2 separate regions of the Homo sapiens genome follow, and region 2 is linked to region 1. Evidence: fine-mapped expression QTL. A gene starts in region 1. The other region holds a variant in brackets. All regions are shown on one strand. Distances are from middle to middle.

Region 1 (5,383 bases):
CCTCCTCTCCCCTCTCAGATACAGATTTTATACTTTCCTACAAATGTTCTGACTTTAATTAGTATTCATCATTAATTTGAAGAGAGTCTATATTCTGACATCATGATATGAACTTTCCATGTTAATGAAATTTCTGACAATTTAGTGTGCTATTGAAATTCTTCCCTTCTCTAGTGGTTATGGTTGCATTTCTAAAATCTGTTATGATGTTGGAAGAATTACATTAAAAGTAGATATCATCAATGTTTTGTTCATTATTGTAATAAAATGAAAACATCTTAGTGTTGTGTTATAAATCCTATAATTAGTCTGTAATCCTTCCCTCCCTTCCAAAGGTATTTCAGGGATTAGAGTTTTTAATTGTGCGTGAGATTCATAAAGTAGGGGCACAGCCTTGTTACTACTATTACACATTTTTTTTCATTTGGATAATTTAGCCGTTATCACTTCAAAAATCTATTTAGAGATGACTATAATAGCTAGTCTCTACATTTTTACATTGGATTTTTCTTTCTTCCAAAAAAATTACTGCTCCACAAACCCCAAATATATTTTTAATTTAGGGAAAAAGTGCTTATATCTGAGAAAATGTGGATTTGGAGAATATATAGAACCTTTCCTCGGGAATTCCGAAAACTCAAGCGCTCTGGCTTACCAAGTGAAGTAGGTTTTCAGGAAATCCCAGCCCCTCAGGACTCTCGATCTGAACCAATCCCAGCTGCCATAGCTCCGCGCTCCCGGGATGGGGCTGTGTTGCCCACGCCTCGCGGCGCGGGCGGACACACACCCTGCTAGGACTAGCTCAGTCCTCCCAGTTTCCCTTCCGAGATGCCTCGGAATCTTTACCACGGTTATCAAACGATTCTGTGGATCAGTAGTTCCCAACTTCTAGGGACAGACGCCCTTTTAAAATTCAACGTAACAGACCACCACCCTCCAAACAGACTGTGATAGCCGTATTTTTAAATTCTCTACTGATTGAGAAAACTCAAAAACAATTAAAAACTCCAATAGAGCCTACAGTACTTTCAAATGACTGTATATTTTAATTATAGCATTTGCATACAACTGAGTTTATTTATCTATGCTGTACGCTAAGTTTAGGGGCAGGCTTGGTGCACAGATGGTTTCGCCCACCCTTTGCACAGGGCAAGCCCCCCCCAGGCGCCCAGGCTGGGAGGCCCAAGTCCCGGCAGCTGCTGCGGTGGACTTAGAGGCAGCAGCTCCTGCTTCTGCCCCAAACGTTCAGTGTAGTCGGATTCCCGGGGACAGCAGGGCAGTCTGCGCGCACATCCCCGGGGCATCGCAGGACACCTGCTGCCCCCTATCGGTGGTGAGAACAATAACCCGAACCCGGTTGGAATCAACTGGAAGAGGCCTTTTGAAAAAAAGAATATTCCAGGACTACGCAGTAGCCAGACGACTCTCTAAGAACATGGGTTTCCGCAGTCAGCTCCGACTGCCTCGTTTTAATGCAGTTTTTCGCCATTGTAGGAGAGCATGCTGGATCGAAGAGGACTCTGACACTGCTTCGGTGAAGGCGGGGAGTGGGGAAGGGGGGGTGTTGAAGGGGTTCAAGATACACCCAAGGGTCTATTTGTTTTCCACCTCCCTATTCAGCAACCCATCTGGTCCTTATGCAAAGCACTTGCCTTCTCCCGGGATGGGGACACACATCAGAGCACAGCGTGGTGTTTTCCCAAGCCCCCGAGGCACCTGTTCCCTCACATTACACCTTGAGGAGAGTCCAGTGACCTCTGCTGCAGAGGCGACAAAGGCTCCCTGGGAAGCCGGCCTCAGTGGTGTCCAGGAATGGCTTTCAAACAGCGTGTACTCCTGTGGTCCCTTTAATAAACATAGGACTATGCTTCAGAAAAGCAAAAATAAATGCCGAGAAGTAAAAGGAAGCTATCGGTTACCCCGTTACCTCTGAAGCCTGTATATGTGAAATTTTCTTCTGAGACCGAGCATTAAAATTTGCTTCCACTTGGACATAGCCAAGATTGCTAACAGGCTGGGAACGTGTGTGTGTGCGTGTGTGTGTGTGTGTGTGTGTTGCTACATACTCTGGGATTTCTAATTTTATTTTCATCACTTTCTCCCCGCTTATTACTACCCCCCCACCCCAATACACACACACTTGGCAGTATCCTAACTTCTTCACTCTTGTCCACATTTGTCTTGGCGCTCTGGGGAAGAAGGTAAGAATAGATAGACGAACGAAGGTGCGTGCAAGAAAGGAGGGAGGGGAGGAGGTACGGTCGGCTTGCACACCAGACTGTGCTTGTTTGAGCAGGAATAGTGGCGGGGTGTCTTCGAGAGGATAACGGAAATGCCCCACCACACGCCCACAGCGCAAGTGCCGGCGTCCCCAATCGGCCAGTGGCAGCAGCAGAACCGGGGTCCACTTGGCACCTCAGGGGCTCTCGCCCGTCCGCTCTGGGCGTCGGGCTGTCCAGTTTCCCTGGGAATCTGGGAGAGGAAGGAGGCTTAGCTAGCTCTGTTCTCCCTGCCAGTACGCTGTGGCGGCGGCCCCTGGCCAGGGCCCGGCCAACTCCCCGCTCTTGGGTGGCTGCAGGTGCCCAGTGGCCCATCCCCAGCGGGGGCGAAACGCCGAGCTGGCCGAACCTTCCACACGTCCAGCTCGGAGTGCGTCTCAGTCGCGCGGCAGAGGCCCCTGGGCCCGGGCGCTCTGGGTTCCCGCGGCCTGTGGGCGCGGTGCACAAGGGCGCGGGCGGGCGGCGGCAGCTCCCAGGCGGAAGGCGCGGCGGGGCCACGGTCACCGCCGCCGCCGCCGGGGCTCGGGCGGAAGCGCGGGCTCCGGGGGGAGGGGCTGCCGCGCCCCCGCAAGGCCCAGGGATCCCGGCCCCGAGCGGCTCCCATCCGAGCAGCAGCGGATCCCGGGCCGCCCTTACCCTCGCCGGGCAGGGATGAGCCCTGGTCAGGTTCAGCCGCAACCCCGCGCGCGGCGGGGCGAGGCCGAAGCCCACGCAGGTCCGCCCGGTGTGCGTCTTTCACTCGCACACACTGAGCCCCTTGCCAGGCGCGCAGGCCCGGGCTACGAGGCCGGCTGCTCCGCCGTCTGCCACCTCCAGGACCCAGAGCCGCCAGCCCTGGGCTCCCGGCAAGCTGTGACTTCCCGGATGGGGCCATGCTTTTCTTCCAGGACAATCGGGGCTCCTCCCCTCCCGGCGATCTTTCTAGGAGGCCACCTCCAGAGATTGCGAGGCGATTTCCTCCCTGCCGGTACCAAACTGTAACTCCTCTCGCTACAGACGCGGAGAACCAAACGCTGACTATTTGGCGAGGGACCACCACCACCCAGAAAAACACACGGTTCAGTGTGCGTTGATTGTTTGCATCAGCGAGTTCATGGCGAATAGAAGTTCTCTATTTTTGATAGCCCTGATTTTCAAGCGTTTTAAAAGTTACGTTCTGTTTTCTGCTTGGTCAACAACACGGAAAATGGAATATTGCTTTTTTTGTGATTCAAAATCAATTGTAGTTACAATGACTTTGAGAATTTCACGGCATCTTGTGAGATAAAATGGAGATGCGCACCTAGGTGAGAGTCACTGGAGTGGATTACGCAGTGGCCGGCTGGATCCGGCTAACAGTCTCTGAGGCTCATTCCTTTTCGTAATCAGCTCGCCCACTCTAGTAGGACTTTCATCTTTAAATTATTTTTTAATTATCATGAGGCTCTCAGTCTAAGATAGCAAAGATTGAGCGCCACATTTAAGCAGTTCTCTCAAACTAGCTTTACCTTTTTAGGGAAGTAATTCCTGGGCTAATCATTTCAGATCTGAGAACAAAAGAAGTTGCTAAAAAAAAAAAAACAACTTTTATTTACGCAGCAGATACTTATGGATCGTCTACCTTGCACCAAACGCGCGCGCGCACACACACACACACACACACAGTGAATACTGTGGGCTATACAAATAATATATAACATCTGTTGAATGATTAATATGTGACAGGCAATATACTTGCTACTTAAAAAGGATTCTATCATTTTACCCTCCCGGGGACATATGAAGTAGAGATATTATCATCCCTGCTTTACCTATGAGAAATATACGAGTCATGAAGTAACTTACTCTAGGTCACCCAGTTAATAAGTGGCAGGACAGGACATTACACTTTACGCCCAGTCTGATACAGAGACCTCAGCCCAACCTCTACAATGTGTCCTTCAGTCAGATCTGGGAATCTGTATATTTTGGAACCACCTTAGGTGAATGTGATAGAATTAGAACTTGAGAAGCCTTGATGTAATCAAACTTCCTCATTTTCCTGATCAGAAAACAAACTCAAAGAAGCAATTTTTCTGGAAACACACAATTGCAGAAAGAGATTCAGAGAGGCTGTTCCTGGTTTCTTGGCTAAGGTCCTTTCTACTATCCAGACTACATTGGCTCAGTCCAGGAGGAGTCAAAGAAGGTAAATAATTCAACAGTTACAAAAAGTGTACAGTCAAATCTTGATTATCCTTAGTTTCCCCTTCAAATTGCTTGCCTTCTGGATTTTTGACTGTTAATCTAGTTTCTCTCCCAGAGGGAGAGAGAAACCGTGTGAAACTCGATTATTTCATTTCTGCTCATGTTACCTGGTAAGAACGCTAATATTATAAAGGAAAATGGGGGCCAGGCATGGTGGCTCATGCTTGTAATCCCAGCACTTTGGGAGGCCAAGGCAGGAGGATAGTAGAAGTTCAAGACCAGCCTGAGCAACACAGACAATCCATCACTCCCCCCCCCGCAACCCCCAGCCCCACCCCCACCCTATCTCTGCAAAAAGAAAAAAAAATGGGCATGGTGGTGCATCCTGTAGTCCTAGCTACTCAGGAGGCTGAGGTGGGAGGATCATTTGAACCCATAAATTCATGGCTGCAGTGAGCCATGGTCATGCCACTGCACTCCGGCCTAGGTGTGGTGGTGTGCACCTGTAGTGCAGCTATTCAGGAGGCTGAGATGGGAGTGTTGCTTGAGCCCAGGAGGTCAAGGCTGCAGTGAGCCATAGTGCACCACTGTGTACCAGCCTGGGCAACAGAGAGACCCTCTCTCAAAAGAAAGAAAGAAAGAGAGAACCATGCAGACTACTGCCTTTTCTCAACAACTCTGAGCAAATTATTTCCTTTACCTAAAATCATTTGCTGATCTCCCATCCATTCTACAGGATAAAATTAAAATTAGACTTATGAAGAAGGCAGATAAAATATTACATGATATTACTACTTTTCATCACCCACAATTCTGCCTCTCATCAAACTTTAAGCAATACTAAACACGCTGTAGTCCTCTGCACATATAGTGCTGTCCCCTGCTTTGTGTTCTTGCATTATTCCCATCCTCTGCCTGGCCTTCCTTCCACACCTGTC
Region 2 (5,383 bases), 30 kb after region 1:
AGTGGACACCCATTAAATGATGGTTGAGTTGGATCTTGAGAATTGAGGAACAGGCCAAGTTAAGAAAAGTAAGGGCCAATGCCAAGTTGGGGATGGAAGTGGAAGTATCTCAATTTTCAACTTCTGGTGTTATATCAAAAGGAGGCCACACCTGCTGTCATCAATTTTTTATCTGAATTTAAAATGTTAATCTATTGAGTGGGAACATTTAAAATATGTCATAATTTGTGTAATCCTGTTTAGCGTATTAAAAAATACAGAAATGCTAAACAGGATTACACATATGGAAGTGGCCTGAGATGCTCCTGACAAGTTGAGAGTCCCCAGGAATAACCATTGTTAAGTGTACATGTGAGATAGTAACTTTTAAACTGTGTTGCTAAGAGAAACCTGAGAGTTCAGTAGAACTCCCTCAGGGACCACTTTAGAGGGAATGGGAATGAAGGGTCTGAGCTGAGCCTATGGGCCTGTGGACTCACAACCCATCCCTATCCAAACAAGGAAGCTTTTATTGATTTCACTTTTTTTTTTTTGACACAAATAAGGTTTTATTTGGAAAACAAAGGCAGGTTTTGGGTTTTTCCCCCTGCTAAATACATTGTGAAACTTACATGCTAGGAAAAAAAGAGGAGATGAATAACAAGATTAACCATGAAGACTTGGCTGGAACTGGACAGCCTAAATTGGCAGCAGGCCAGAACAGCATGGTCCTATTGGCAAGGCAAATATAAGAAGGGATTAAAATGACCAAGCTGTCTAGGGAGACAGTATGGAGGAGGGAGAGTGACATACTTTGAGTGTAGAGCCCAGATTTTAGTCCAGCTTCATCACAAACTAGCTCTATAGCCTTGGATAGGACACTTAACCTGAGTGGATCTCAGTTTCCCCATTTGCAAAACAAGGTCATTGGTCTAAATGACTTTCGAAGTCTGGGGTTCCTACTCTAAGACTCTGTGATTCCAGGGGGTTAATGTAGCAGTGCAGGTGATTGACAGTAATTTCCAGGCTTCACATTTATTCATTATTATCAGAGTAACCCCATTTTTGCATGGTATGAGGACCAGAAAAGAAAGATGAAAAGTTTAGGAGTTTGATATTGCAGTATAGAGTTCTTAGCTCAGATAATATCTGATATTAACTGGGCATTAAATACTGCTATTGTACTAAGCACTCTATCCATAACATAGCATTTAATTCTCACAACATCTCTATCAGGTAGGTACTGTTATCCCAATTATAAAGATGAATAAATTGAAGTTTAAAAGACTGTCATTTGCCTAGGGTCATACACCTAATAAGGGATACAGCAGGGGTTTAAATCCAGGGATTCAAATGCATATCTTTATTTTTTCCCCTATTCATGTAAAGTCTGCCCATATTATAAAGTCCTAAAGAACTAGGCTTCTTACCAGCTTAACTCACTTTATACAACCATAGCACATGGCTTCAGGCATGCTGGCACCTAGTGGGAATCTTTTTATAATGATGATGCCAGTAGTGTTGACAATATTAATGCTGGTTAAACAGAATTTATCTTTGAAATGCAAGTTAACAAACAGAATCTAGAATTTCAATATCAGTTCTATTCCACTGCTTGTATGTAATTCTACAGGAAACTCTACTGCTAAAAAGAAACTATGAAAGAATGGATGCATTTTCAGAGAAGTTCAAAAATTTCAAATTCTACTCTATGAATTAGGTAGATGTGTAGGTGGCAGAAGTGTCCAAAATATTTCACATTTTGGTAGCTTGTAAAATAGATAAGTTTAAAAAAACCTTATATTTGTAAAACATTACCAGACCACAGAGAAACTTCATAAATACTATTTCAGTTAATTTTCACAACCCCATGAACATTATCATCCCATTTTAGAGATCTAAAAACTGAGGTTTATATAAGTTAAATTTTTTTGCCCAGGGTGAGATAGCTAGTAAGTGGAAGCAAATTTTTATCTTTAGACTCCAAGTCCAGTGTCTTTCCATTACACTACAAGATACTTTACTAAAATGCACATTATGTATCAGTAAAATATAACAGCTATTACCTGCTAGAATAGAATTGATTAGTTTTGCCCCCTAGAGGATAAAATTATATATTTTCCAAAGATTTGGTTGCTACAGGTAACAACTTGGAGTTATAATATTAATAATATTGTATTAATATTGTATATTTATATAATAATATTGTGATATAGATGGATTAAAATATGTGGCTAACACTTTAAAAGAGGCAAATAAAAACAAAACCAAACATAAGTTTTTTTTTGAGATGGAGTCTTGCTCTGTCCCCTAGGCTGGAG[T/G]GCAATGGCGCGATCTTGGCTCACTGCAACCTCCGCCTTCCTGGTTCAAGTGATTCTCCTGCCTCAGCCTCCTGAGTAGCTGGGATAACAGACATGCATCACCACGACCAGGTAATTTTTGTATTTTTAGTAGAGACAGGGTTTCACCATGTTGGCAAGGCTGGTCTCGAACTCCTGACCTCAAGTGATCCACCTGCCTCGGCCTCCCAGAGTGCTAGGATTACAGGCATGAGCCACGGCGCCTGGCCCAAACATAAGTTTTGTTGTTGTTGTTGTTGTTGTTGTTTTAAATTAGGACTGTGAGCACAGCTAAATGCACTATTCTGTGTATATAGGACTAGGTAATGTATCGCTATTTTAATGTTTTTAGGATTTTAAACCTAACTATTATAAATCAATAGTTTATGGTTGGACTTTAAGCTACTAGGGGTTTTGATATTTAAAGAGCTTAATTTTCTTGATCACAAGGAGAAAGCTTATATGCAGTATGTTCTTTAAATCCATACAGATTTGGAGCATCCTCTGGCTCTATTGCTAACTACCTGTGTGACCTTGAAGAAATGCATTAACCTCTGTATCTATGTTTCCTCAAATTTATATGGGGCAATCATTCCTATGATTGCTTTGAAAATTAAATATGGAAGTGTCAACAAAGCATATGGTGGAGGATCTGGTGCTCAAAGAATATTAGTTATCTTCCTTAAGGAACTTGTGAGTATTGGTATATTGGGCTACAATGTGCCTGCTACAAAACCAAAACCAAAAACCCCTTCATCTCTACTTGTCTCTACTACTAATGTCAGATAGTAGACATTAATATCTGACATTAAAGAGTGAGCTATTTAGCACCCCCTCTGGTACCTTGTTCACAGCCAGGAACTTGGTAGGTGCCCAATAAATGTTAGTTGAATTAAACTGAAATCAAATTACCACATCCCCCCAGGGTCTCAAGTGTTTAATTAGAAGCCCACCATAGTCAGTATCTCATTGGCCAGTATTCGGCCAATATATAAAAGGATGTTGTCCTTGTAACATTCCTCCTTGGTCTCTGGGCCCTGCTTTTTTGTCATGGTTCATTCCAGCTGAACTAAAATTTCCCCAAACATGACTGAAGCGATGGGCCGAATCTAACAAGATTAAGTTTAATAGGGATAAATGTAAAGACTTATACTTCAGTCCAAAAAGAATCCTGTACAAGTGCTAGATGGAGAATATGGGGATTAGCAGCAACATGTGTGAAAAGGACTTAGGGGTTTTAGTTGATATTAAGCTCAATTAGTCAACAGTGTGCTTTTCCTAACAAGAAAGTTGACGTGAACTGAGCCTGCATTAACTCCTGCACCAGCCTGGCGATTACCCGACTGCACTAGTTTTCAAACTTTAGCTATATCAGAATCACCTGGCAGGCTTGTTAAAACACAGACCATGGCCCCATCCCCCAGAGTTTCTGATTCAGTAGGTCTGGGGTGGGGCCTGAGAATTTGCATTTCTAATGAGTTCCCAAATCAGTGCTAATGTTGCTGGTTCTGGGATCATACTTTGGAAATCACTGCCCTCCTTTATTTTGCCTGGTCAGGTAACACGGGTACTATTAGTAACAAAAATAGTGAAGAGACTGAAAACATAAGAGGGACAAGGAAGGAAGGAAAGAAATGAAGAGTTGTTATGTGCTATAGTGATATTAGTATGAATAATAATAATAGCTAACATTTGTTGAGAGTTTATTATGGGCTGGAAGTTCTACCAAACATATCATATGCAATTAATGACGGTAATAATAATAACTACCAACCAGATAGCACTTACTGTGTGCCAAGTTTTGTTCTATATGCTTTACATATTTCACCCTTACAACAGTCCTAAGAGGTACATATTACTATGCTCATTTTTCAGATAAGGACACTGCAGCCCAGAGAAGAAACCTGCAAAGGCCGTGTTCACACACTCACAAGAGATATGGCTGTGATTTGGATCCAGATGTGATGGGCTGACAACAAAACTCCTGTGATACCATGAAGTCTTCGGGAGGCAGAATTGAAGTGAACATGAAGTTTAGCTTAGAGAAGAAAAGAATAAATACATACAAAACATTTGATGGTGAATAAACAGAAAATGGTGTATTCAACAGAATTTGACTCAGCAATAAAAATGAACCAAACTATGGAAAACAACACCCAACAACAGGAAGAAATCTCAAAATAATTATGGTGAGTGAAAGAGGCCAGACCAAAAAAAAAAAAAAAAAAAGACTAGAAAATGTTAACTACCCAATAGTGATGAAAAACAAGCAGATCAGTGATTGCCTAGGGAGTGGAGGGAAGGGCACCCTGAAAAGAGGTAGGAAGGAAGGGATGATAAACAGGCAGAAGGAAACTTTTGAGGGTGGTGGATATATTCACTACCTTGATGGAGATGCTTGCAAGGGTGTCAAAATGCATCACATCGTATGCTTTAAACATGCACAGTTTATCGTATGTTAATTATAGTTCAATGAAGCCAAAAAACATATTTGAATTTAAATATGTTTAGTACAATCCACAAATCCTATGAAGTAGACCAGTATTATTGTTCTACTAATAACAGATTGAAAATTGTGTTCAGTATACCTATAAAACAGGTAATTTTGACAAATAGCCCCTTCAGCATATCTAATGTATACTCAATATGTCTTACCAATTTCCAAGTAGAAATTATCCATTAAGTAATAACTTAGGTTCTATTAAAACCTAATTCAATGGAAAAAACCTATTACTAAATTCTAGCTTATTAAAAACCAGTTTGGCCATAAGAGGTCACGAATTCTAAAAACTAATAATACTTAAATAAATTACTTAAAATTACTTAAGTATTAAATAATACCTAAATATATTTACAATAATAATAGTAGTAGTAGAAGTAATGCCATTTCCTTATTAAGTTTCCCATTTTAAAAAATACCTTAAAAACTCTGAAATTTTTCTTCTGAAATAAATAAGAGGATAGATAGAATTATTCTCATTTACCAGACATTAATTTTTAAATTGCCCGAAAAATGCCTTTTCTACAACTTTTTTTTCATAACTGCTTTGATAAGAAGAATCACA

Evidence for each region. PIP is the estimated chance that this variant, and not a neighbour inherited with it, causes the effect.
Region 2: its variant is the best candidate, but not a certain one, in a credible set for the expression of LINC01990 in tibial artery (GTEx, PIP 0.90).

What each region holds. Positions count from the first base shown.
Region 1 is chr3:107,428,758-107,434,140 of GRCh38, forward strand. It overlaps LINC01990 (long intergenic non-protein coding RNA 1990), which reads left to right and starts at 2,173. Exons shown (of 3, transcript NR_110039.1): 1 at 2,173-2,201. RefSeq lists a silencer at 2,719-2,968 and an enhancer at 3,179-3,368.
Region 2 is chr3:107,458,380-107,463,762 of GRCh38, forward strand. LINC01990 (long intergenic non-protein coding RNA 1990) reads left to right here. Exons shown (of 3, transcript NR_110039.1): 2 at 2,294-2,411; 3 at 4,194-5,383. Among named protein-coding and RNA genes, the nearest start is that of LINC01990, 30 kb to the left of the region's middle. The variant T/G (reference allele first, on the strand shown) is at 2,301.